Linked DNA regions of Homo sapiens. The protein of the gene in region 4 interacts with the protein of the main gene of each other region in a pairwise test. Each region holds a gene or a part of one and is shown on either strand. Other genes may lie near its edges.

Evidence for each region.
Region 1: the proteins of ZNF655 (region 4) and AP1M1 interact in binary tests that used the Homo sapiens proteins (3 or more experiments, as listed by UniProt).
Region 2: the proteins of ZNF655 (region 4) and CCDC74A interact in binary tests that used the Homo sapiens proteins (3 or more experiments, as listed by UniProt).
Region 3: the proteins of ZNF655 (region 4) and KIFC3 interact in binary tests that used the Homo sapiens proteins (3 or more experiments, as listed by UniProt).

Annotation. Positions count from the first base shown.
Region 1 is NC_000019.10:16,193,614-16,200,936, forward strand, and holds the start of AP1M1 (AP-1 complex subunit mu-1), read left to right. Parts: upstream 1-4,297; 5' UTR 4,298-4,413; coding exon 4,414-4,455; intron 4,456-7,323. UniProt on the Homo sapiens protein: Subunit of clathrin-associated adaptor protein complex 1 that plays a role in protein sorting in the trans-Golgi network (TGN) and endosomes.
Region 2 is NC_000002.12:131,530,871-131,534,184, reverse strand, and holds the end of CCDC74A (coiled-coil domain-containing protein 74A), read right to left. Parts: intron 2,605-3,314; coding exon of another isoform or gene 2,579-2,604; exon of another isoform or gene 2,563-2,578; coding exon of another isoform or gene 2,522-2,562; coding exon 2,383-2,521; intron 1,597-2,382; coding exon 1,404-1,596; intron 1,322-1,403; coding exon 1,248-1,321; intron 1,173-1,247; coding exon 1,116-1,172; exon of another isoform or gene 1,111-1,115; intron 917-1,110; coding exon 787-916; 3' UTR 519-786; downstream 1-518.
Region 3 is NC_000016.10:57,771,460-57,778,494, reverse strand, and holds part of KIFC3 (kinesin-like protein KIFC3), read left to right. Parts: intron 1-1,240; exon of another isoform or gene 1,241-2,009; intron 2,010-3,416; exon of another isoform or gene 3,417-3,506; coding exon of another isoform or gene 3,507-3,515; intron 3,516-6,142; exon of another isoform or gene 6,143-6,206; coding exon 6,207-6,272; intron 6,273-6,808; coding exon 6,809-6,952; intron 6,953-7,035. UniProt on the Homo sapiens protein: Minus-end microtubule-dependent motor protein. Involved in apically targeted transport. Required for zonula adherens maintenance.
Region 4 is NC_000007.14:99,561,635-99,568,669, forward strand, and holds part of ZNF655 (zinc finger protein 655), read left to right. Parts: intron 1-253; coding exon of another isoform or gene 254-339; exon of another isoform or gene 340-661; coding exon of another isoform or gene 662-860; intron 861-2,228; coding exon of another isoform or gene 2,229-2,425; exon of another isoform or gene 2,426-3,071; intron 3,072-7,035. UniProt on the Homo sapiens protein: Probable transcription factor.

The DNA.
Region 1 (7,323 bases), on a different chromosome or scaffold from region 4:
CCTTACAGTCCACCACCGCTGTCCTCAAATTTACATTAGAATCACCTGGGGAGCATTAAAAACCGCCAAGTTCTGGTGCCAGGCACAGTGCGACGTATGCAAATGTAATCCCAGCTGCTCAGGAGGCTGAGGCTGGAGGGTTGCCTGAGCCCAGGAGTTCAAAGCGAGCCTGGAGAACAGAGATTCTTATTGTGTGTAGGGAGTGTTGTGGCAGGCCAGGTCTCACTAATGCAGGCCTCCGGCCTTCATAATGACTGTTTAAGTACTGACTAAGTGGTTAATTTTTTTTTTTTTTTTGGAGATGGCATTTCGCTCATTGCCCAGGCTGGAGTGCATTGGTGCGATCTCGGCTCACTGCAACTCTGCCTCCCGGGTTCAAGCAATTCTCCTGCCTCTCAGCCTCTGGAGTAGCTGGGATTCCAGGCATGCACCACCGTGCCCGGCTAATTTTTGTATTTCTAGTAGAGACAGGGTTTCGGTATGTTGGCCAGGCTGGTCTCAAACTCTCCTGACCTCAGGTGATCCACCTGCCTCGGCCTCCCAAAGTGCTGCGATTACAGGCGTGAACCACCATGCCCAGCCAAGAGAGGCTTTTGATACTAATTGCCCAGTGATTAAGCTCTAGAAGGAATCCGATGAGATGTCAGGACTATTATTATTACCATTATTATTATTTTGAGATGGGGTCTCATTCTCTTGCCCAGGCTGGAGTGCAGTGGTGTGATCACGGCTCACTGCAGCTTTGACCTCCCAGGCTGAAGTGATCCTCCCACCTCGACCTCCTGAGTAGCTGGGATCACAAGTGTACATCACCATACCCAGCTGATTTATTTATCTCTTTGTAGAGATAGGGTCTCCCTATGTTGCCCAGGTCTCAAACTACTGGCCTCAACCTCAAGTGATCCTCCTGCCTCGGCCTCCCAAAGTGTTGGGATTGTGGGTGTCAGCCACCAAGCCCGGCCACAGCTGTGACTTCCCACTGCTCAGGAAGAACATCAGGGTCTGTTCACCAAGAGTTAACAGAAATAGACGCGATATGTAACAAACCCTGTTGGACCTAGTCTCATATTTTGCCCCATTTATTGTAATGTTTTAGAGATCTTACTCTGTTGCCCAGGCTGGAGTACAGTGATGCCACTATAGCTCACTGCAGCCTTGTCAACCTCCCAGGTTCAAGTGATTCTTCTGTTTCAGCCTCCCAAGTAGCTGGGACTACAAGTGTGTGCCACCACACTCAGCTAATTTTTGTATTTTTTGTAGAGATGGGGTTTCATCATGTTCCCCAGGCTAGTCTGAAACTCCTGGGCTCAAGTGATCCTCCTGTCTCTGTCTCCCAAAGTGCTGGGATTACAGGCATGAGCCATAGAACCAAGCAACTTTTTTTTTTTTTTTATTTGAGACTCAGTCTCAAAAAGATAAAATAAAAAAAGAAAGAAAGATCATACCTATTATGATACACCAGGGTTTCTCAAATTTTGTTTCCTATTAGCATCATCTGGGGAGCTTGGAAAAAAATCCCAATAACCAGGCTGGGCGCAGTGGCTCATGCCTTTAATCCCAGCACTTTGGGAGGCCAAGGCGAGCAGATCACTTGAGCCGAGGTGTTTGAGACCAGCCTGGGCAACATGGGGAAACCCCATCTGTACAAAAATCGCAAAATTAAGCCTGGCCAACATAGTGAAACCCCATCTTTACTAAAAATACAAAAACTGATCTGGGCCTGGTGGCACACATCTGTAGTCCCAGCTACTCAGGAGGCTAAGGTTGGAGGATCGCTTGAACCCAGGAGGCAGAAGTTGCAATGAGCTGCTGAGATTGCACCACTGCACTCCGGCCTGGGTGACAGAGCGAGACCCTGTTTCAAAAAAAAAAACAAAAAACCAGAATTAGCTGGCCTTGATGGTGTGCATCTGTAGTCCCAGCTGAGCCAAGGAGGTGAAGGTTGCAGTGAGCCGAGATTGCACCAGTGCACTCCAGCCTGGTGACAGGATAAGACCGTGCCTCAAAAAAAAAAAAAAAGAAAGGAAAAGAAGGCCAGGCGCGGTGACTCACACCTGTAATCCCAGCACTTTGGGAGGTGGGGCGGGCGGATCACAAGGTCAAGAGATCAAGACCATCCTAGCCAACATGGTGAAACCCCGTCTCTACTAAAAATACAAAAATTAGCTGGGCATGGTGGCAGGCACCTATAGTTCCAGCTACTTGGGAGGCTGAGGCAGGAGAATCACTTGAACCTGGAAGGCAGAGGTTGCAGTGAGCCGAGATCGTGTCACTGCATGCCAGCCTGGTGACAGAGTGAGACTCTGTCTCAAAAAAAAAATTAAAAAAAAGAAAAATCCCAATAACCAAACCCTGGCCCAGACCAATTAAAACAAAATCTCTATACATGGCTTTCAGGCCTCAGTGGTTCTTATTGTGTGTGTTGTATTGGGGGGGCTTTTGAGACCCCCACTCCTAACCTATTCCCAGACCAAACTGAGGGTTGGGCTTCTATATCTCACAGCCCAATAATGAGACACAGATGAACTAGGGAGGAAGAGAGTTTTTATTTCTGTAACTGGTTACAGGGAGAAGGCCTGGAAAATATCACCAGACCAACCCAAAATTACAAAGTCTTCCAGAGCTCATATACCTTCTAAGCTATATGTCTACGTGTAGGTGTGCATTCATCTAAAGACGTAAGTAAGTTATAGTCTTTTAACCCATAACTAAGATCTGAGTCCTGAAGACCTTCCTCTGGAGCCTCAGTAAATTTACTTAATCTAAGTGGGTCCAGGTGCTGGGGTGATTACCCTTATCTTATCTCCTGCTAAATCATGGAGGTTTGGGGGAGTTCCTTCAAACCCCAATAAACTTGTTTGTGGAGGCCTGAGGAGTTTCTTCAGACCGCCAATAAAGCTTGTTTAATCCTAAAAGGGTCCTGTTAAGAATTCCTTCATTATCTTGTCATGCTTCAAGGCCCAGGAAAGGCCTAGGCACAACTCTGGGTGGGCTTTTGTTACATCCCAGCCTTTGTATAAGGGCACTGGCTCTCTTATCTTTTAATATTTAACTTAACCCTTGTAATCCCAGCACTTTGGGAGGCCGAGGTGGGTGGATCACGTGAGGTCAGGAGTTTGAGACAAGCCTGGCCAACATGGTGAAACCACGTCTCTACTAAAAATACAAAAATTAGCTAGGTGTGGTGGCACATGCCTGTAATCCCAGCCACTTGAGAGGCTGACACACAAGAGAATCACTTGAACCCAGGAGGCAGAGGTTGCAGTGAGCCGAGATCATGCCATTGCACTCCAGCCTGGGTGACAGAGTGAGACTCCATCTCAAAAAAAAAAAAAAAAAAAAAAGCAAACAACAAAAACCCTCTCTTGGCTGCTTGCTCTGTGCCTTGAGCAAGAATCCTTCCAGCCCAGGAGTCACTTAGCAGTCTTCAAACATTCTAGTTTGCTTCTCTAGAGTTTCGGTCACATTTCTTTCCTAAGCAAAACACTATATAATTACCGAGTTGCAAAAATCATCTTTCCAAACGCCAAAACGGAGATAAGACAGAAAATAAAAGATGTGAGAGGCAGGCATCCTGGGTAAATCACTCTGGTATTGCAGGGTTGGGATCCCCAGGGTACTATGATGGCTAACTGGAACAGAATGCAGGCATTTCTCCAAAGCCCAAGAGTTCATAAAAGCAAATTAAATATGACTCAATGGATTAATCAAGGGCCACCAGTTGCATTACTGATTACTAACTTTGCAGAAATGAAACACGGTATGTTGGGTCAAGGTTCAGTGAGGCTGGTTTTCATAACATTCCAGGCAATAAACAGGCACACTCATTCATTGATAAATGTTGACAATGACAGGTGGTGACTGTTGATAAGGTTTGATTGCCATTCAGAAAGTTTGTTTGACCTCTTTCCAAGTAACCACGACCTTACCTCTCTCTTTTGAGCTTATCACAATTGGTGACTGTACACTTGTTTCATAGACTTCCCCACCAGACTGTGAGCTCCATAGGGCTGGGCCCCAGGTCGGTTTCACCACCAGGCTCTCTCGCCTAACTCGGCCCACGGGAGGCCGTTTCCAGCTGCTCTGGCTCCATAGCTCAGCCTGGCAGCGGCCACTGGGTGCCCTGATTTGGTCGGCCCCGCCCCACCGGGCCTTACTTCCGGGATGCTTCTGGCGGGAGCAAGAAACATGGTTACATACGACGTAATGCGCCTGCGCACAGTCCGTCCTGCGCCTGCGCATTCCTGACAGCACCTCCCGGACCGGACATAACGGTCCCCGCGCGGCTCCCCGAACCGGAAGTGGAGGTGAGCTGTCGCGGGCGGCGCCCGGCCTTGCTCAACGCCCAGCAGTCCCCACCGTCGCTGCCGCCGCCACCGCCCTCGGCCGCTGCCGAGGCCTCCTGCAGCCATCATGTCCGCCAGCGCCGTCTACGTGCTGGACCTGAAGGGCAAGGTACTGAGGGCTCCCCACCCTCCCTGTTGCCAGGCAACCGGCAGGGGCCTCCGCCCGCGGGGACCCACCCTGTTGCTAGGTAACCGGCTTATGAGCCCCATCCTGGTGTGAGGCAGAGAGGCCGGTAGACCTCACCTGAGAGCCCCATCCTGTTTCTGGGTAACCGGGCGGGGGTCTTAAGTGGGTAATCCCCGCCCTGTTGCTACGTAACGCGGTGGGCTGCAGCCACCGCGTTGCCAGGTAACTGACTGCACCGCCCTCTGCTCCCCGGCGCCGGGGCCGGGGGCTCGGGCCTCGGTGGAGGACCCAGAAGCGGGGCCGCAGCCGGCCTCGGAGCCAGGCAGGGCGTCCAGGGGCTGCGCGACCCTTGGCCGGGGGTGGCGAGGCGTGGCGGGGACTGGGTGCTCTCGAGCCAGTCCCGCCTTCTCAGGGCGTTACAGCTTCTGTTTATCGTGCACTTTCTCTCAGTAGGAATTTCTCCACGTTCATTGTGATAGTGAGTTACAAGGATTAGGTGAGGTGAGTGGTGATCACGAGTGCCGTTTTATAGAGGGAGAAACTGAGGCATGGAGAGGTGAAGCAACCTGACCAAGGTCACAATGGTCACAGAGAAGTAGCAAGTCTAGGAGTCCGATCCAGAATCATTCGTTTATTCAGCTGATATCTGGGGAGCACCTACTAATGCCGGGCAGGGTACTAAGCCTGGGGTCGATTTGTGTTTAGCAAAAAACAGTCCCTTTTTTTTTGTTTTGTTTTTGAGATAGTGTCATGCTCAGTCGTCCAGTCTGGAGTGTAGTGGTGCAATCTCCACTCACTGCAACCTCCGCCTCCCGGGTTCAAGCAATTTTCCTGCCTCAGCCTCCCAAGTAGCTGGGATTACAGGCACCTGCCACTACGCCGAGCTAAATTTTGTATTTTTAGTAGAGGCAGGGTTTCACCATGTTGACCAGGCTGGTCTCGAACTCTTGACCTCGAGTGATCCACCTGTCTTAGCCTCCCAAAGTGCTGGGATTACAGGTGTGAGTCATGTGCCAGGGCTCAACAATCTGTGTTCTTACGGTGTTCACAGGCTGGTAGGGGAGATGGATACCCATCTCCAAAAACACAAATAAATGTCAATTGCAGTGGTGTTGAGGGGCGAGTGTGTTATACAGACAGTCAGCCTCAGCCCGAGGATGAGAGAGGGTTTCCCTGAGGAGGGGTGACAAATGGACCAGAGACACCAGGGAGCTGGACATAAACTAGAACCCAGGCATCTTCCCCAGAGGATCTGAGAAAACTTTAAGAAGGGATTGTCCCCACCTTTTAGAAATGGTCCTCTGCCTTCTCCTAAGTCCATCCCAGGTGCAAGGCAGGTGGCTGCCTGGCCTGTTGCATGTGGAAGCAACAAGAACCGGTCCAACAATGTGAAGCCCAACATTGATCAGTGAGAGAAACAAACATGGGTGTCAGGTCCTAGGTGAGGCGGGCAGGGGTGAGCCCTAAAGCAGCTGAGAGTGAAGAGGTGAAATGGCTGCCCCTTCCCGCCCCACCCCACCCCCAGCACTTTCCTGAAGTCCCTTGAGTGGGTGCCTGCTCTGGAAGCCACCCAAAGTCAACAACTGGTGAGACCCAGTGCTGGGCTTCCCTCCCCCGCCTTCTTGGAAGGAGGGAAGACACCCGTCTTAGAGCACGCCAGGGGCTGGGTGGTGCGGTGGAATGAGTCCTGGTGGAATGAGTCTTGCTTCCACCCTGGCCACTGCCTCCCCAGAGGTGCCAGTGGGCTGCCTGTCTTGGCTTGCTTATTCCTTCAGCAAACATTTCATGAGCACCTAGCATGCACCCTGCCCTATGCCGGGCATAGGGTGTCCATTGGCGCCATGGCTGTGGTGTTAGGGGTGAGCTCAAAACCCATCCCTGCTGCTCAGCTGTGTGACCTGGGACAGGCACCTTCTCCTGTCTGAGCCTCACTTTCCTCACTGGTCAAAAGAGGCTTTTATGGAGTTATTGTGCAGATTTGCTGAGCAGATGCATGAGACAGGCTCAGCACCACCCATGGTCCATGTTAGCTCTCCCAGGCCTCTCGGTCTAGCAGGGGAGTCACCTAGAAGCAGAGACATTACCACACAGTTGGATCCAGGCAGCCACAGGGGCAGGAACAAGGTCCCAAGTCCTGCAGTTGCTCAACCTCATCTTTAGCCAGTGGAAGGGGGAGGTGGTTATGAAAGGCTCCCTGAAGAGGGCGACGCTGGAAGTAGGTTTGGAAGGCACGATCATGTGGAAAAGAGGTGTTGCAAGGGGCAGCCTGCTGGGGCTGCCAAGCCAGAAGTCCTGGCTAATGCTGAGATGGGAGAGAGGGACCAAGGGGACCACTTCAGTTCCAACCAGGAGCCACCGTGAGGAGACCGTAGCCCAGAGAGGCATGATCAGACCTGCCTTTCAGAAAGCTCCCCAAGGCAGCCGTGGGCTTCCTTCCCTTCCTCTGCAACCATGATGCCCTTTCTTATTCCACGACCCACGGACCTCCTGTTTCCAAAGTCAGCCTCGTGAGCCGACTGCATTTAATCAACAATAAAGCACACTGAGAAATTCATGGCCACGTGTCTGGTCACCGAGGACACCAGCGTGGCCACACTGGGCTGGGAGGAAGCTGTCCTAGTAGGAAGCTTCTCCGCTTTATCTAACTGGCTTCTCAGCAGCTTCTGACACCACTAACCACCTCCTCTTCAGTGCTCCCTTCCGCTTCCAGGAGGCTGCGCTCTGGGGGGTTTCCTCCTGTTTCTTGCACTGCCTACTTTCCTCCTTTTCTGCCCTCCCCAGGGCTGTGGAGCGGCTCAGGCCTACGCGTGCCTCCCCATGCTGTCACTCTTCCCAGGTGGGCTTTGACTC
Region 2 (3,314 bases), on a different chromosome or scaffold from region 4:
AGAGGCTGAGATTAATGCCAACGAAGTGGGGCCGTGGGCCTGGGAAGACTGTGTGGCTGGCTGAGGGTGGGCAGTAAGCTGGCCACCCCACCCCCGACATGGACATGGCTGTGCTATGGCGGAAGGGGTGGTGTGGGCATGGCCACAGCACTCGAGACAGCCCTCCGAGGAGGAGGGCGAGCCTGGCTGGACCCCCTGTCTGCGGTGCTGTGTCAGGGCAGGAGAGGACAGCCTCTTGCCCCCAGGAGTGTGCAGTGTGGGCAAGAGACAGAGTGATCATGTGTTTGGAACGCAGCTCCAGCCCAGCCAGGGGACCAGAAAAGCCCTCCCGCTTCCAGGGAGGATGTGCATGGCTCTGCCAATGCCTATCTCCCAGGGCCGCTGGCAGGTCCCAGGATGCGCAAGACTGGGCTGCCCAGGCAGGTCCCTGCAGACAGCAGGGCCTGGGCTAGAGGCCAAGGGCTGGGACTGGGAAGGGACGCGACGCCTGATAGCCAGTGAGGAGCCAGGCACACAACTTGGAAATAAACAAGCTTTATTTTCAGTTTCAACAGGTAAGGCGATACCTGCTTCATCGTGTGCTTTTATGTAAATGCCAAATAGCAAAATAACAGCTAGAAAATAAACAGTTTGTCAGTTTGGAGATCAAGTACTTTATCTATCTTGAGTGTTATCTGTCTTGGAATTTAGCCAGGCCTAAAAGTAGCGGAAGTATCAGGAAATGCTATAGAGAGCCAGTCTCCAGCTGCAGGTTGGTGGGCCTGGCACTGACCAGATTGGGGTGGCTCAAAGCACTGAGCGATGCAGGCGCCGTTTCTGCATTGCCTGCAGCCTCTTCTGCCTCTCGGCAAAGTTGTTCTTCGGGGTCTGCTTCAGTGCGGGCAGGATGGCACGCTCCGCCACAGGTGGGCTCAGGCTGGGGCGGGTAGAGGGACTGTCACCGTGAGCATCCCCGGGAGTGGAGTGTGTGGGGAGTGCGGCCTGCATGGCCCTCACGGGGGCACAGAGAGGCCTCAGCGAGCTCTGCTTCTGCGCTGCCACCCTCCCTTCCCCACTCCCTCCCTGGGGCCCAGGCTGCAGGGCTGCCCCACTGTCCCCATGCCTGTGGGACTTACCATTTCTTGGAGAGGCTCTTGGTGGAGACCTTGGGGAAATGCGTGGCTTCTTGGTCCCTGGGTGAAGGAAGAGTCAGCAGTGAGCTGTGGATAGGACCCCAGGGATGGGGCAGGGGTGCACCAGGCACTCACCTGGGAAAGCTAGCTTCCTCCGGGGCTGCCTGGGGCCTCTGGCTCCCTTCCAGGAGGGACTTGAGGTGCCGCAGCTGAAAGGCAGGGGCAGGGGCATGGTGGGGCCTGTGGCGGTGCCAGACTGCCCAGGGCCACCCCCACCACCCAGGGCCTCACCTCTTGGGTCTGCAGGAGGTTGGTATTCCACAGCTCGCGGATGAGCACTTCGCACTGCCTAAGTGTGGTGGGCTTTCGCAGGGGAAGGGGCAGGATCATTGGGGGGTGTGCCCCCGCCCCCATCTGCCTGCCCTGGTGCTGGCTGTTCCCCATACAGGCAGCTCCTGCATTAGAGGCCTCTGCTTTCTCCTTTCTGAAACAGTCATTGCAGCAGCCAGAGGTGACCTGCCCAGGTGCGTCTAACCACCCACCCAGCATACCTCCCCAGGCAGCGCCCAGGCCAATGTGGGGAAGAGGGCCTGGTTCCCCTCTCCCACTGAGCAGGGTGCTCTGGGCACCAGGTGGGGGTCTCTGGGACTGGGGCCTGTCCCTTTCTCCCCTCTGAAGGTGCCCTAAGGGTCAGATGGGCTTCAGTGGGTGACCAGCTAGCTGCCAGGCTGCTCTTGATCGTGACCCCACACCCAGTGGGGCATCTTGCTCCAGGCCTGGTCTTGGGATGTGCAGATGCAGGAGCCTGTCCTGCTGGTTGCGCTGCTGAAAGTGTGCACTCTGTAGCATCTCAGGGCAGTCCCGCAAACTCAGGGATCACCAGAACCTGTTCCTACTCTGACCTGCTGGCCTAGTGCCCTCCAAAGGCAGGCTGTGGCCAGGGGCAGCAAGCCTTCTCTTGGTAAGAATATTACTTTACTTTTCTCTGAGGAAGTGGTTTAGGGGCTGCTACTGGCCCCCCTCGTGGGCTCAGGTCAGCACAGGTACTCTGCAGGACCCCCAGGGGAAGGGAGGAAGACAGCGCCCACCGATGGGTAGAGCGTGGCCGTCATCTGCTATCATGAGCCCAGGAGACAGGCCCCTGGAGCTAGGGGCAGAGCAGTTGGCTGACTGCAGGGCGTGAGCCTAGTAAATGTAGTCATGGGGCCCTTAGGGTGCAGGCAAGACTTACCTGGCCTGCCCTTGCACCCCAGGAACACCCAAGCCTTACCTGGCCTGCCCTTGTACCCCAGGAACTTTGTCCAGCTTGCTGTTGTGAAGTAGGGGCTCCTCTTCCAGGTCCGCCTTCTGGGAGACGTCAGCTTTTGAATCTTGCTTGTTGAAGGAGCCGGGCTGGGGCCTGGCCTTGCCTTGAGAGTTGGCTGCAAGTCAGACCCTACAAGGCCGGTCACTGCAGGCACCAACAGTCACCGCCCAAGTTTTCCAGGAACAGCTGTGTGTACCCAAGAAGCCCCTGTCCCTGCCTCAGTTTCCTCCTCTGTAAAGGGAAGCCTGCCTTGGAGGGTTCTGGGGGGAATCAATGTGGTTCTGAGGGTGAAGCCCATGGGTGGTGCCTGTGAACACTCTAGAACAATCAACATAGTGGAAGCTGGCCCCATCTTGGGTAAAATGAAACTGCATGAGAGGCTTGGGACCCAGCCTGCATGGGTTTCCTCGGCAAGGACAAGGCCCGTCTAGCACCTGGGCCCATCACAGGAATGGTGGGGGTTAGGGCAGGGCTGAGGAAAATGCCCGGCCTCACAGAGTGGGGAAAAGAGGCTCTCTGCTCCCGGCTCACTCTGCAGAAGGTGCCATGAGCCCAGGGCTCCGTGGGCAGTGCCATCCCTCCTGTGTCCTGCCTGCTTGTGGCAGGGACACGGCCAAGCAGGGCTGCTGCTGGGCAGCCAGGGTACATCCTCCCTAGAAGGCCACCCGGGGAGGCCCCTCCTGCCTGCTTGCTGCCCCGCCCTGGGGTGCCTGCTGTGAGGCCTTACTGCCCTGTGACTGGTCCCTGGTCCTGCCCACCCCCCCTTAATCCCCTCCCGGTGGCTTCAGCTTGCAGGGCTCTTTTCAGCTGCACCTTCATCCCCAAATCCTGGAGCTTGGCCCAGCAGAGGGCGCCTGGTCAGCACCCCTAGAGGCCACCCAGGCTGGGGTCCCCGT
Region 3 (7,035 bases), on a different chromosome or scaffold from region 4:
ACTCTGTTGATAGTGTCCTTTGTTATACAAAAGTTTTTAATTTTGATAAAGTCTGACTTACCTATTTTTTCTTTTATTGCCTGTGCTTTTGGTGTTATATCCAAGAAGTCATTGCCAAATTTAATGTCATGACATTTTCTCCTCTATTTTCTTCTGAGAGTTTTATAGTTTTAGCTCTCACATTTAGGTCTTTGGGGTTTTTTGTTTTTTGTTTTGACACAAGATCTTGCTGTATTGCCCAGGCTGCAGTGTGGTGGTATAGTCATGGCTCACTGTGGCCTTGGCCTCCTGGGCTCAAGTGATCTGCCCGCCTCAGCCTCCCTAGTAGCTGGGACCACAGGCGTGTGCCACTGTGCCCAGCTAATTTTGGTTACTTGTTGTAGAGACAGGGTTTCCCTATGTTGCCCAGGCTGGTCTTGAACTCCTGGGCTCGAGCACTCCTCCTACCTTGGCCTCCCAAAGTGCTGGGATTACACCACGCCTGGCCCTCTTTGATCTATTTTGAGTTAATTTTTGTATATGGTATAAGGTAAGGATCCAACTCCATTCTTTTGCCTGTGGATATCCAGTTTTCTCAGCACCATTTGTTGAAAAGATTATCCTTTCCCACATTAAATGATCTTGGCAACCTTGTCAAAAATCATTTAACCATATATGCGAGGGTTTATTTCTGGACTCTGTATTCCATTCCATTGCTCTTTATGTCTGTTTTAATGTCAGTACCACACTGCTTTGATTGCTGTAGCTTTTTTTTTTTTAATTTTTTTTTTATTTGAGATGGAGTCTTGCTCTGCTGCCCAGGCGGGAGTGCAGTGGTGCAATCTCAGCTCACTGCGACCTCTGCCTCTCGGGTTCAAGCGATTCTCCTGCCTCAGCCTCCTGAGTAGCTGGGATTACAGGCGCCTGCCATGAGGCCCGGCTAATTTTTGTATTTTTAGTAGAGATGGGGTTTCGTCACGTTGGCCAGGGTGGCCTCAAACTTCTGACCTCAGGTGATCCGCCTGCCTCGGCCTCCCAAAGTGCTGGGATTACAGGCATGAGCCACCGCGCCTGGCCAATTGCTGTAGCTTTTTAGTGAGTTTTGAAATCAGGAAGTGTGAGACCTTCAGTCTTTCAAGACTGTTTTAGCTATGTGGTGTCCCTTGATATGGATTTTTCTATTTCTTTAGAAAATGTCATTGGGATTTTGTTAGGCATTGCATTGAATCTGTAGATCACTTTGGGTAGTACTGACACCTTATCAATATTAAATCTTCTAATCCATGAACATGGAATGTCTTTCCATTTATTGGTGTCATCTTTAATTTCTTTCACCAATATCTTGTAGTTTTTAGCATACAATATTTAACCTTTGTTAAGTTTATTCCTCGGTACTTTATTCTTTTTGATGCTATTGTAAATGGAATTATTTTCTTAATTTCCTTTTTGGATTGTTTATTGTTAGTTGTAGAAATGTAACCGATTTTTGTGTGTTCATTTTGTATCCTTCAACTTTGCTGAATTTATTAGTTCTAATTGCCCTGCTTTTAAAATCAAATTAATTCCAACATTCAAATCTTAATTAAATTCACATAAAACTCTAGACTTCCTTTTTGTCATAAAATATTGGAAGATGTGGCACCTCTGAGCTGACATTCCCACATGGCACCCACCGCTTGAGGTCTAGTGGCAGCTCCTGCCTTTGGTGGAGGTGACCATCCTTTAGCACGCTCCAGCCCCACCACCCTTTCTGTCTCTGCTTACCAACCTCATCCACAAGTTCTGCTCTGGCTGGCCCCTCATGCATTCAGCATTCTTCCTACAGGTACTTACTGAACACCTACTGTGTACCAGGCACTGTTCCAGGCACTGGGAGTACAGTGCTGAACACAACAGACAAAAATCCCTGCCTTCGCATATATCATCTCGTTTAATCCTCGAGACAGCTTCCATGAGGTAGCCTCATTATACAAATAAGGAAACTAAGAGACATAGAGAACTTAAGAGACTTGTCCAAGGTTACCCAGCAGGTAAGGGGATGTCTGGATTAGAACCTGGGCAGCCTGGCTTTAGAATTCGAATTGTCAGCTGCTATTACTGCCCATCAGTGGCGGAAGGACCCAGAGGTGAAGACTTGGCAACAGAGGCAGGGTGGCGTGGACAGGGGACAGATAGGCCTGGCCGGTGGTCATACAGCCAGGATCAGGCCTTCTGTGGGCTCCACAGGGTGTGCTCCCAGGGCCGCCCCGCTGGCCTCTGGGCTGAGTTTCCTTGAGGTTGTCTGGATCCCAGACCCTCTGGCCTTCCCAGCTCAGCAGCTTCAGCCTGGGAGAGCCCGCTTTTCCTCAGCAGACAGCTGATGATCGTTGACTGGGCTTGGTGGGAGGTAAGGAGGTAACCAGCAGGTTTTCTTTCTGTGATGGTAAGAGGCCGCCTTGGAAGCAGACAGCTGAGAAAACACAAAGACCTGGGCTGGCTGGCCCCACCCTTGGTCGAGCCGCTTCTGCCTGTGAAGTGTAAATGCAGGTGGTGTCAAGCCGGCAGACAGGCCCAGCTCCCTCTTCCCCTTGAGCAGGCAGGGTGACGCCCCCTGCAGCAGGCCCGTGATTCAGTTGCTCTGGCTGATGAGGAGCCTGGGCCCGGGAGGAGTGTCGCACAGCCCCAGCCTGGTCCGTCCTCAGCCCTGGATTGACGTCCATGCTGTCCTGGGACCGTTTCAGCCGCCTAGTGGGGAGTCTGCTTTCTCCTCCGTCCTGTGTCTTGGGCTCAGGCATGTGCCTGCTGCCCCTTTGTGGCCACAAGTATGTATCGGGCCCAGGGTGGCACTCGGGACCCTCCCCTGTTGGGCTTAGAGACATGGACGGCCCTTGCTGGCTGGAAGCTGCGGTGAGTGTGTGAAGGGCCCTCAGTCTTCCCTGAGGAAGGCCCTGCCTGCTCTTGGCTCTCACTGCTCCCAGGCCATCTTCCATCCGCTTTCCCCAGGTGCCTCCGTTTCTCTCTGACTTCTTGCCTGTTTTCCCTAACTCTGAGAGATTGCCTGCCTTCAAGTGCAGGAGAAAGCAGACATCTTCCCTACAAGCCCGAGACCTAGCCCCCAGTAGAGCTGGCCAACCACCTGCCACGGAGCAGGCCACTGGTGCCTTGGCCAGAGTGCTCGTGGTGCCAGTCTGCTGCGTCTCAGTCACATTCCCCCTGCTTTGCTGCCCTCAAGAAGCCAGAGATGACCTAGTGTCTGACACCTCTGAACAAAGGGGCCTTTAGAGCCCCTTCCTCAACTCCCTCACCATCCCCCATGCTCCCCAGCCTGCCCTGGTTGCGGTTGCGGCCACTTCCTTTTGGGTGCCCCTCTGAGATTCTGGACAGAGCCCAGGAGCCCCCAGGTTCCCATTGTGATGCAAGGACAGAACAGAACCCTGGGCCGCAGGCAGGTGGCTGGTGGGTATCCCGCCTCCCACCCCCAGCAAACACTGGCAAACCCCACTCTCCCTGCATCAGGGTCTGAGTGCCTGGCAGGGGCGGCAGTGGAGATGATCAAGGTTAGTGCGCCCAGCCCCATGCTGAGGCAGCAGCCTTTCTGGGGAGGGAGGGGGCGTGGAAGGAGACTTCAACCTTTTGAAGAGGAAGTCAGTTCACTTATGTCAGGGTAGGGAGAGTAGGAATTACGTATTCTTTGAGACTGAAAAATTACTGGCCGGGCGCAGGGGCTCACAACGGTAATCCCAGCACTTTGGGAGGCTGAGGCGGGAAGACTGCTTGAGGCCAGGAATTCAAGGCCAGCTTGGGCAAAATGGCAAGACCCTTCTATACATTAAAAAAAAAAAAAAAATTAGCCGGGCGTGATGGTATGTGCTTGTAGTCCCAGCTACTCGGGAGGCTGAGATGGGAGGATGGCTTGAGTCCAGGAGGTCTAGGCTGCAGTGAGCCTAGATCGAGGCACTGCACTCCAGCCTGGGTGACAGAGTGAGACCCTGTCTCAAAAAGAAAAAAAAAAATTACTGAAAAGCATAAAGATTTTGTCAACTATAATTCCACAGCCCAGAGACCCCCACTTTTTAGTGCTGTACACTTAATGGTTTTTCAGATGTTTCTTGGACTTAATATGTTGATGAGCCTTTCCCCATGACATTTAAAACTCCTGATAAACATGAATGTAATGATGACAGAATAGTCTATGTACTATATATACACATTGTAATTCACCTGCCCACTCCTCTAAGGGTGCTTATTCAGGGTATTCTCAATTTTAGGACGAAAGCAGAAAGGCTGCCTCATGCAAACTGTCCCTACTCCCACCCAGGGGCCAAAGGACTTGAGCCGTCCTCTCATCAGGCACTGAGCGGGCAGAGAAGTGGCACAAGCTCTGCCTCCCTGCCTGGCCCGTGGCCCAGCGTGTTGCTAGGAAGGAATGTGTTTGTGCAGGTGGCGGCAGAGCTGACCTCCAGGGGTCTGGCCCTTGGGTCACCTGCTTGTCCCCCAGGAGGCCTGGCTGGGCCCCCAGCCTTTCACCTGGGTCTTGCATCTTGGAATCCCCCTGCCCCACCAAGAGCAGGCAGTGCCAGCTCCCTGGCCTTTTCCTCAGAGGTGGGGGTGGATCCCTTGGTCCACTTCCTCCCTGACCACTCAGAGCTGGCCTAGCTGCTGTGAGTCAGCCGTTCTCTCCCACCCTGGGAGACAGGGACCTCCGAGGCCGAACACTACCTTGTTTGATGACACAGACTTGTTTGATGACATCTCAACCATGTAAAGTAGGGAGATTTTACACACACCCCCAAAATCCAAATGTCCGGCCTGTCTTAACTATGGCTGATGCATGCTGCTGAGTGCTAAGGGGGCGGACTCTAAGCCTCTATTTTTATTTTATTTTTTTTAGACAGCCTCGCTCTGTCACCCTGGGGTACAGTGATGCTATCATAGCTTACTGCAGCTTCAAACTCCTGGGCTCAGGTGATCTCCCACCTAACCCCCCGGATTACAGCTGGGATTATAAGCGTGCACTGGTGCACTCGGCTGAGTTTTGAAACTTTTTGTAGAGATGGGGTCTTGCTGTGTTGCTCAGGCTGGCCTAGGCCTCTCTTGAAAGATGAGAATTTTGGCGATGCTGGGTGTGCGTTCTCACCTCCTGTCGTCCGAGGAGAGTACGTGGTGGCCGCCTTCTTAAAGGGTTCTTGGGAGCCAAGCCCTGCACAGCCCCTCACCTGCCTTACCTGGCTGTCCCCTGTAATCAGTGGACGTTGTTGCCTATCATTTAGTAATGAGAACCCAGCTGTGTAAACCTCCTAAACCACCACACAGGAATCTGGCTCTTAGCGCACCTTTCCCGAGGTGGGGGTTGCTCACCACAGGACGTTCTGCAAGAAAAGTACTAAACATGCCCTGACGGAAGCTGGAGCCAAAGTCTGTGTCTGTGAATTGTTTCCTGAGAGAGGTTTCTGGGGGTGGGCTGATGTGAGACCAGGGTCTAGGGCCTTGGGAGGGGATGGGTGGCTGGAGGACAGCGCCGGGGAAGGGTTGCTCCCCTGGGATCTGCCCTCATGGGACTGGCACCATGATGGTGTCCCCTCTTCTGGGGTCCGGATAAGCTAGGTAACCGTGGCTTCCTCATGGGGTGCACACCCCCTTCCCCCTATAAGAGCCTTGGCTGCCACAGCTTTCCTGCAAGGCAGATTGGGAGCAGGGGTGGACACAGGTTCTGAGTGTGCCCTGACCACTGGCAGACCCATCTCCACAGGCTGACTTGCCAGAGACCACCCCAAGTGGAAAATTCTGGGGGCTGGGCCAGGGTGGATCTAGGGCTCGGAGGACCTGGAGTATGTACCATCTGGGGGCCCTTTTAAAGAGAGAGAACATAAAATTACATAGACACAGGCAGGTACAGGACTTTGGGAGGGGCTCGTGTAGTGAGGGGTCCTGAGGGTGGGCTGCCGTTGGGTGGGCCCAGGGGGCATCGGGGTGGCCTTGGTTGCACTTGCCCTCTGGGCTTTCCTGAAGAGCTGGGGTTGGCTCTGTCCTGTGGAGGGAGAGGGTGCGGGAGGCTGTCAGCACCAGCCCAGGTTTCTCTCACCTGAAGTCCCAGGTGTGATGGGATGCTTGAACATAGGGGAACCTAAGGCCACAGCCTTAGAAGAAGCCACAGCCACATCAGTCATCCCTGGTGCTGGGCAGGAGGCCTGGGTGTAGGCTGGAGCTGAGGACTGAGGCTCACCTTGCTCCTGACTCTGTGCCCACAGGTAGAACACCTGAAGGAGAAGCTCATTAGCCAGGCCCAGGAAGTGAGCCGACTGCGATCTGAGCTGGTGAGGCCACAAGGCTGTCCTGGGGTAGCGCAGGGCCTGGCCTGCCTTGTGCAGATGGGCCCTGCCAGGGGCAGGGGTGCGACCCTCTCTCTCCTGAGCCCGCATATCCCACCCTGTCTCAGAAACACACCGAGAGCCTTATCCCCACCTCCTAGTACCCTCAGAGGCCTTGTGGCTCCAGGGGGTGGGAGGTTCCTTCTCTGTTGCTGACATTAAACGGGAGTGTGAACCCTGGTATAAATATGTCTCTCCTTGTGACTTTCACACTCAGAATAGGGTGGGGGCAGCAGGGAGAGCAGGCTCTGGGTCACCACCCTTCTCAACTCTGCCCTCCACTGTCTTTCTCTTGGTTTCTCTCTTGAGCTTGTTCCCTCCTCTCTTGCCCTTGCCTTTTTCTTTTTCTTTTTCTCCTTCCCTCTGCCTTTCTCCACACCTCTCCTCTCTTCCCTGCCCTTGTGCCATCTCCGCGGGCCTCTCTTCTTTCCCCCGTCATCTGCCCTCGCCACATGCGCCCCCTCGGCCCTGGCTCTCTGCAGGGGGGCACCGACTTGGAGAAGCACCGGGACCTGCTGATGGTGGAGAATGAGCGACTGAGGCAGGAGATGCGGCGCTGTGAGGCCGAGCTGCAAGAGCTGCGCACAAAGCCAGCAGGTCCCTGCCCAGGTTGTGAGCACAGCCAGGTGAGCAGAATGGCCGTGGTCCCCATGCTGGTCCTGGAGGGCCACCCCAGCTCCTCACAGTGAGCCTGTCCCTTGCACTCATC
Region 4 (7,035 bases):
GTCATGTGATGAAGATAAAGTGAAATACAAGCTTTCCTAAGAAAATCCTGTATCACAGGTCAAAACACGCATAAGGCATGCAAGTACTGAGACGAAGCAGAGTAGACACACCCAATACCTGAAAAATGTTCATTGGTTTTACTAGAGTATTGAGGAGGGTCCTGCTGACACCCCTTGGGCTGGAGAGGCCTCCTCTGAAAGGGAGCCCTGGGAAAGGGCTGCTCTCACTCTTCACTCCTTTCTCCTCCCTCAGCTCCACCTGTTCCTCAGGTGCCTGCTCTTCCCCGTGAGGGAAGCCCAGGAGACCAGGCAGCTGCGCTCTTGACAGCCAGGTACCAGGTGAGCTGAGGAACCCTCTGCTTTTCCTCAGGGACTATTGCTACTGATGGAGTGTGGCCTCTCTCTCATCCCATCTGTAGACCTTGCCTGGAATTTTTTTCAATAGCAGACTCCAGTTTGGGAATTGATCCTCTTCGGAGACCTGGACTTCACATAAACCAACTTCCCATCTCCCCAGTGCCATGAGCAAACTCTGTTTTCTCTTTGTCCATGGTTGTGTGATGGGTGCTTATTAGATGTTTAAGGGTTATGGGCTTTATTCCGTAGGTTCTAATCTGTTCTCCCTCCTCCTCAACGTAAGTACACAGTGGATACCCTCTCTATGATCTTCATTCTCTGGCCATGGTGCTACAGTGTTCTCATTCCTCAGAGCAGCCAGGATGTGTTATTTCAGGAGTTTGTGACATTCGAGGATGTGGCTGTGCACCTTACTCGAGAGGAATGGGGATACCTGGACCCTGTTCAGAGGGACCTCTACAGAGAAGTGATGTTAGAGAATTATGGGAACGTGGTCTCACTGGGTAAGGACTTCCTTATTATTCGGTTTATCTATTTGAATTTCTTTACTTTCTTGTTTCTTCCTAAGTATAAGGTCTCTGAGAAGGTCTGTAGAGTGTGGCTTAGATTCCAGGACTTAGAACCTCTGAATCCTTATCTTTCACATCGTCTTCTCCGGGAGGGGTAATTAACGTTTGTTTGGGGGTGCCAAGAAGAGACATTCTCCTCCTTATCCCCAGTTCATGTTTATGGCCATTGTGGGGCATCTTTTCCCTTTTAGCAAAGGGAAACTTTCTTGTGCTTTGCTTGATTTCTCACCGTTCTTTTCTTTTCCATTTTTGTAGGAGAGACCCCAGGGTGGCCTCCCAACCTCCAACCAGACACTTTCCTCTTTGTTATCTCAGTGTCCCTGTATTAGAGAATTGAAGAATTTCCCATTTTTCTAGGAAAAAGAAATGCCGTTTATTTAAAAAGACAGGCTAAATTCCTTCTTGTTGAGTAGTCCCTCACCCCTTAAGATCCCCAGATGTATCTCCAAGCAGGCAGAACTTGAGATGTCATTTGAAGGCATGACTCACTGTGAGTACATTTCAGTGAGTCACCCAGAATGGTAATCCCACGTAACCACACCCAGGGCAGCAGAAATCTCAGATGTTTACCCCATGCTGAGGTGGGGTCAATGCTTAACTCATGTCTCTCCCTTGTCATTTTGAAAGGTACAGTGGGAAGCTGGGATTAGCCAAGCTGTAGTGCTGCTGGGAAGCATCAGTGGGGTTTGTCGGCAGCTCCCTTGGTGTGAGCATTGTTCCTTTTTCTTTAGTTTATTTTTTATATTATATTATATTTTTTATTTTATTTTATTTTTAGATGGAGTTTCACTCTTGTTGCCCAGGCTGGAGTGCAGTGGTGCAATCTCAACTCACTACAACCTCTGCCTTCCAGGTTCAAGCGATTCTCCTGCCTCAGCCTCCCAAGTAGCTGGGATTACAGGCATGGGCCACCACGCCCGCCTAATTTTGTATTTTTAGTAGAGACGGGGTTTCACCATGCTGGTCAGGCTGATCTCGAACTCTTGACCTCAAGTGATCCACCTTCCTTGGCCTCCCAAAGTGCTGGAATTACAGGCATGAGCCACCGCACCCAGCCTCCTTTTTCTTTAGTTTCTTGCTTGCTTCTGCACTCTTCTTTTTGTGTGTGTAAATACTGAATCATGCATTTTCTTTTCTTTTTTTTTTTTCCGTTGGCTTTGTCTATGCTGGTGGCATCCAGGGCATTGCTTTGTCTCCCTGATTATGCTCAGGATTCAAGGTCTTCTTATTTGTGGGGAGGCAGGCTGCCCACTGGGACGGTTTTTAGTGTGTTTTCCATTCCTGGCTCTTTAATCTTTGTAGGCATACTTCTCCGCCTTCCCACCACCCGGATTCATAGTGTGAATTCCTGCCCGGCCCTGAGTCATACCCAGGCAAGTGCTTTCTCTGGAGAAACACTTGCCGTCCTTACAGCAGGAATCTCCAAGAGATGGCCCAAGTATCGGCTTCCCATCGATATTGCTCGTCCCTGCTCGGAAACTCCTTTTCCACGATTGTGAGATATTAAAATTGACTGATGGAATAGAAGCTCCCCAGGATGCCACCACTGTGTAAAATCGCAGCTCCTCAAATTACCTCTGTTTAATTTCAAATGTTAGGGTCCAAGGAAGCCCTCTGTTGCAACCAGATATGTTTTGAACCCAGTTCATTCAGAAACCATGGTTGGTGGTCATCATCTACTTGTATTGTGAAAAACCAGAAATTCCAAATTCAGCTCTTCAGTTATGGTCTTTTCATATTATTTTAGAATGTGAAACTTATGCTGTGTGCCCCTCCTTTTATGTGGCGAACACAACCTGCCCCGTATGGTGCCTAACTCTCCTGTGAACCCTGGGCTTCCCTCATGTTTAACATTCTGGTTTCCTCCTTCCTTGAAGTCCCTGTGGCCCTCTTCAAGGTCCTACCTTCCTACCCTTTATTCTTTGTGGTTCTGTACAGATTGATGCAATTATATTGCCTTTCCTGATTAAGTGTTCCTTACTCTGTCCTTGATGGAGGGGAGAAGGGAGGGCAAAGAAGTTAAATTTATTTCAGGGCATCAAATTGAATATCTACTTAATAACTTTGTAAACTGTAAAGTGACATACATATAATTGTAAAGTACTGTTAATTTTATCTAATAATTACAGAGTTTCCAACAGTTAACCTGTCTACTTTTTGGAGTAAAGAAACTTTGTAGCAGTTTAATGCAGTCTAATAGCATAGTATGCTATAGACTGAACTTTATCCCATTTCCTCTCTTATCTCTGCACTGCACACTCGACATGCAGTCGACATGCATACACACTTTTACACATACAAGAGACACGCACAGTGCAAGAAAGCCTTCTACTCATCTTGCTTTTGTGATCAAGTTAGCAGCATCTCCTTAGCAGTTATTTTTACAATCCTTGGGAAATCATTTTCATATTTTTGGGTTCAGCAGACTTCATCTGAAAATTAACCCATTTATGCCTAGTGTTCCATTATTGGAACACTAAGCTTGCGGGAATTATTTATGTCCCGCTGCTCAAGGTCATCGCCAAGGTCTGATTTTTAACAAAAATTGCAACCTCCAGCATAACTGGGTTAAGTTTATACATTTATTAATTTAACTTTTTAGGGTTGTAAGACTTTTTTTTTTTTTGAGACGGAGTCTTGCTCTGTTGCCCAGGCTGGAGTGCAGTGGCACCATCTCTGCTCACCGCAAGCTCCACCTCCCGGCTTCATGCCATTCTCCTGCCTCAGCCTCCCAAGTAGCTGGGACTACAGATGCTCGCCACCATGCCTGGCTAATCTTTTCGTATTTTTAGTAGAGATGGGGTTTTGCCATCTTAGCCAGGATGGTCTCGATCTCCTGACCTCGTGATCCGCCTGTCTCGGCCTCCCAAAGTGCTGGGATTACAGGTTGTGAGCCACTGCGCCTGGCCTCCAGATTGTATTTGTCACAGACATTAGAACGTTGGTCCTTTGCTTAAGTGCTTCCACTATGCAGCAGTAAATATACAGAGTACAAATAGCTGAGTAAAGAAGTCGGTAATAAGTAATTTTCGTTACCACATAATTGAAAAAAGAACATACTCCATTGATGATGAATGAACAATTTGCCTCTGGGTCACTATCCATAGGGAAGTTACCTGTTACTTAGTGTGGTAGATTAAGACCCATAAAGGGGACCGAGTTGCTTTTCACATGGGTAAGTGTGGCAGGTGCCCTATTAGATGATGGCCTCAGAAGCATGCTTGTTAAAATTCTAATTGATATTAACTGGGTCAGTAGATTGGGAATGTTTGGCACATACTCTCTGCTTTTTTAACTTGATGTCATGAAGGACTACAGTTATTTTGCACAGAATGTTTTCCATTGTCACAGCTATTTAGTATTTATTGAGCAGCCAATATGTTATTGGGTACTATATATATGTATGTATACACACACACACACATATGTATATACACACACACAGACATAGGACATTTATATGTGTGTGTGTGTGTGTGTGTATATATATATATAAAGGATATGTGTATATATCTCATTTAATCCTTACCATAACCCTGTGAGCAGATGACACTGCTCCTATTTTATATCTGAGGAAACTGAGGCTCAGAGAAGTTAAGTGATCTTTGCAGGATCAGTGAGAGGCTTGGGACCCAGATCTGCCTCTGAAGCCCCTGCACTTTTTCACTACTTTGTGCCCTTAGGACAATAAGTTCAACTACACATGGAGTTTTTAATATTTTTAGTGAGTTGTGTGTACTCTGATGACAAGAAAAATTCAAAATGCCATGACAAATTGGACAGACAGGCCAGTATATAGTTTGGGACCAGAAAGGACATGCATTCAAAAAGTAAAACTCTCTAGGGACACATTCCAGTCCAACAGGTATCTACAAAAGAATGATATTGCTAAGGAGAGATATTATTTGTGTATTAAGGACCAGGAAGAAAAGCGTGAAGCTTTCAGATGGCTAAAAGCATAGCCGTAGTAAAAGCAGCAAACCATATGATAAGGCAAATTTTAAATATTATTTTTGAGGCAGGGTCCCCTCTTGTTGCCCAGGCTAGAATACAGTGGCATGATAACAGCTCACTGCAGCCTGGACTTCCCTCCAGGCTCAGGTGATCCTCCTACCTCAGCCTTCTGGGTAGCTGGGACTATAGGCCTGTACCATCATGCTAATTTTTTTCTATTTTTAGTAAAGAAGGTGTTTCGCTATGTTACCCAGGCTGTTGAACTCCTGGGCTCAAGTGATCTGCATGCCTCAGCTCCCCAGAGTCCTGGGATTACACATGTGAGCCAACACCATGCTCAGCTTTAACTGTTATTTTTGAAGACCAGATTAAAATAAATTTTATTAGAAAACTCTCAAGATTTAAATAAAATAATTTTTTTTTTGGAGACAGTCTTGCTCTGTCGCTCAGGCTGGAGTGTGGTGGCACAATGTCAGCTCACTGCAACCTCCGCCTCTCAGGCCCAAGCCATTCTTGTGCCTCAGCCTCCAGAGTAGCTGGGACTACAGGCATGCACCACCATACCCAGCTAATTTTTGTATTTTTAGTAGAGATGGGGTTTTGCCATGTTGGCCAGGCTGGTCTTGAACTCTTGGCCTCATGTGTTCCACATCCAGCCTTAAAATCAAAAGGTTTTAATAACTTAATTTTAAACGGAAAAAATGTAAAGCAAGTGCATATTTTGAAAGCATAGAGTCGGCCAGGTGCTGTGGCTCACACATGTAATCCCAGCACTTTGGGAGGCCAAGGCAGGCGGATCACCTGAGGTTGGGAGTTCGAGACCAGCCTGACCAACATGGAGAAACCCCGTCTCTACTAAAAATACAAAATTAGCCGGGCATGGTGGCGCATGCCTGTAATCCCAGCTACTCTGGAGGCTGAGGCAGGAGAATCACTTGAACCCAGGAGGTGGAGTTGAGGTGAGCCGAGATCGTGCCATTGCACTCCAGCCTGGGTGACAGAGTGCAACTCCGTCTCAAAAAAAAAAAAAAAGCATTCACGTCAATGTCAAGAGAACCTGCTACTAATGCTTTCTTTGATAGGCAGTATGATAGGTTGGAAAGAATATAAACTGGGATCAAGCTTGGGTTCCACTTACCAGCTGTAGTATGTTGAGCAAATTATTTAATCTGACACTCATTTTCTTGGTTTATAAAACATGAAAAATAATGTCTACCTTCTGGGTACAGGATTGAATTAGATTATGCATATAAGTACCTGGCTTGTGTCGGGTGCGGTGGCTCACGCCTGTAATCCAGCACTTTGGGAGGGTGAGGTGGGCGGATCACAAGGTCAGGAGTTCGAGACCAGCCTGACCAACATGGTGAAACCCCGTCTCTACTAAAAATACAAAAATTAGCTGGGCATGGTGGTACATGCCTGTGATTGCAGCTACCCAGGAGGCTGAGGCTGGAGAATCGCTTGAACCCGGGAGGTGGAGGTTGCAGTGAGCCAAGATCATGCCATTGCACTCCAGCCTGGGCGACAGAGCGAGACTCCATACCCCCCGGCCAAAAAAAAAAAAAAAAAATTAAGTACCTGCCTTGTGCTAGTTACTTTAATATTTTGGAAAGAATAGCAAGCGATATGAGCCATAGACCAGATTTTTTAATACAAATAAAAATTTCAGGAGTGTGTTCAAATTATTTATTTATAGTGGAGTTTCCTCAAATTTATTATTGTTTGGACTATTGTCTAGGGATTTGGATTTTTTTTTTTTTTTTTGAAATGGAGTCTCCCAGGCTGGAGTGTAGTGGCGTGATCTCGGCTCACTGCAACCTCTGCCTCCCGGGTTCAAGCGATTCTCCTTCCTCAGTCTCTCGAGTGGCTGGGACTACAGGCACCCGCCATCACGCCCGGCTAATTTTTGGTATTTTTAGTAGAGACAGGGTTTCACCGTGTTAGCCAGGATGGTCTCGATCTCCTGACCTTGTGATCTGCCTGCCTTGGCCTCCCAAAGTGCTAGGATTACAGGCGCGAGCCACCGTGCCTGGCTGGGGTTTGGATTTTTATTGTAAAGGATTTCCATTTCCTTGATAATAAATCATCTTTTAGATCCCTTTTAATTTTTAATTTTAATTTTTTGTAGAGATGGAGTCTCACTATGTTCCCCAAG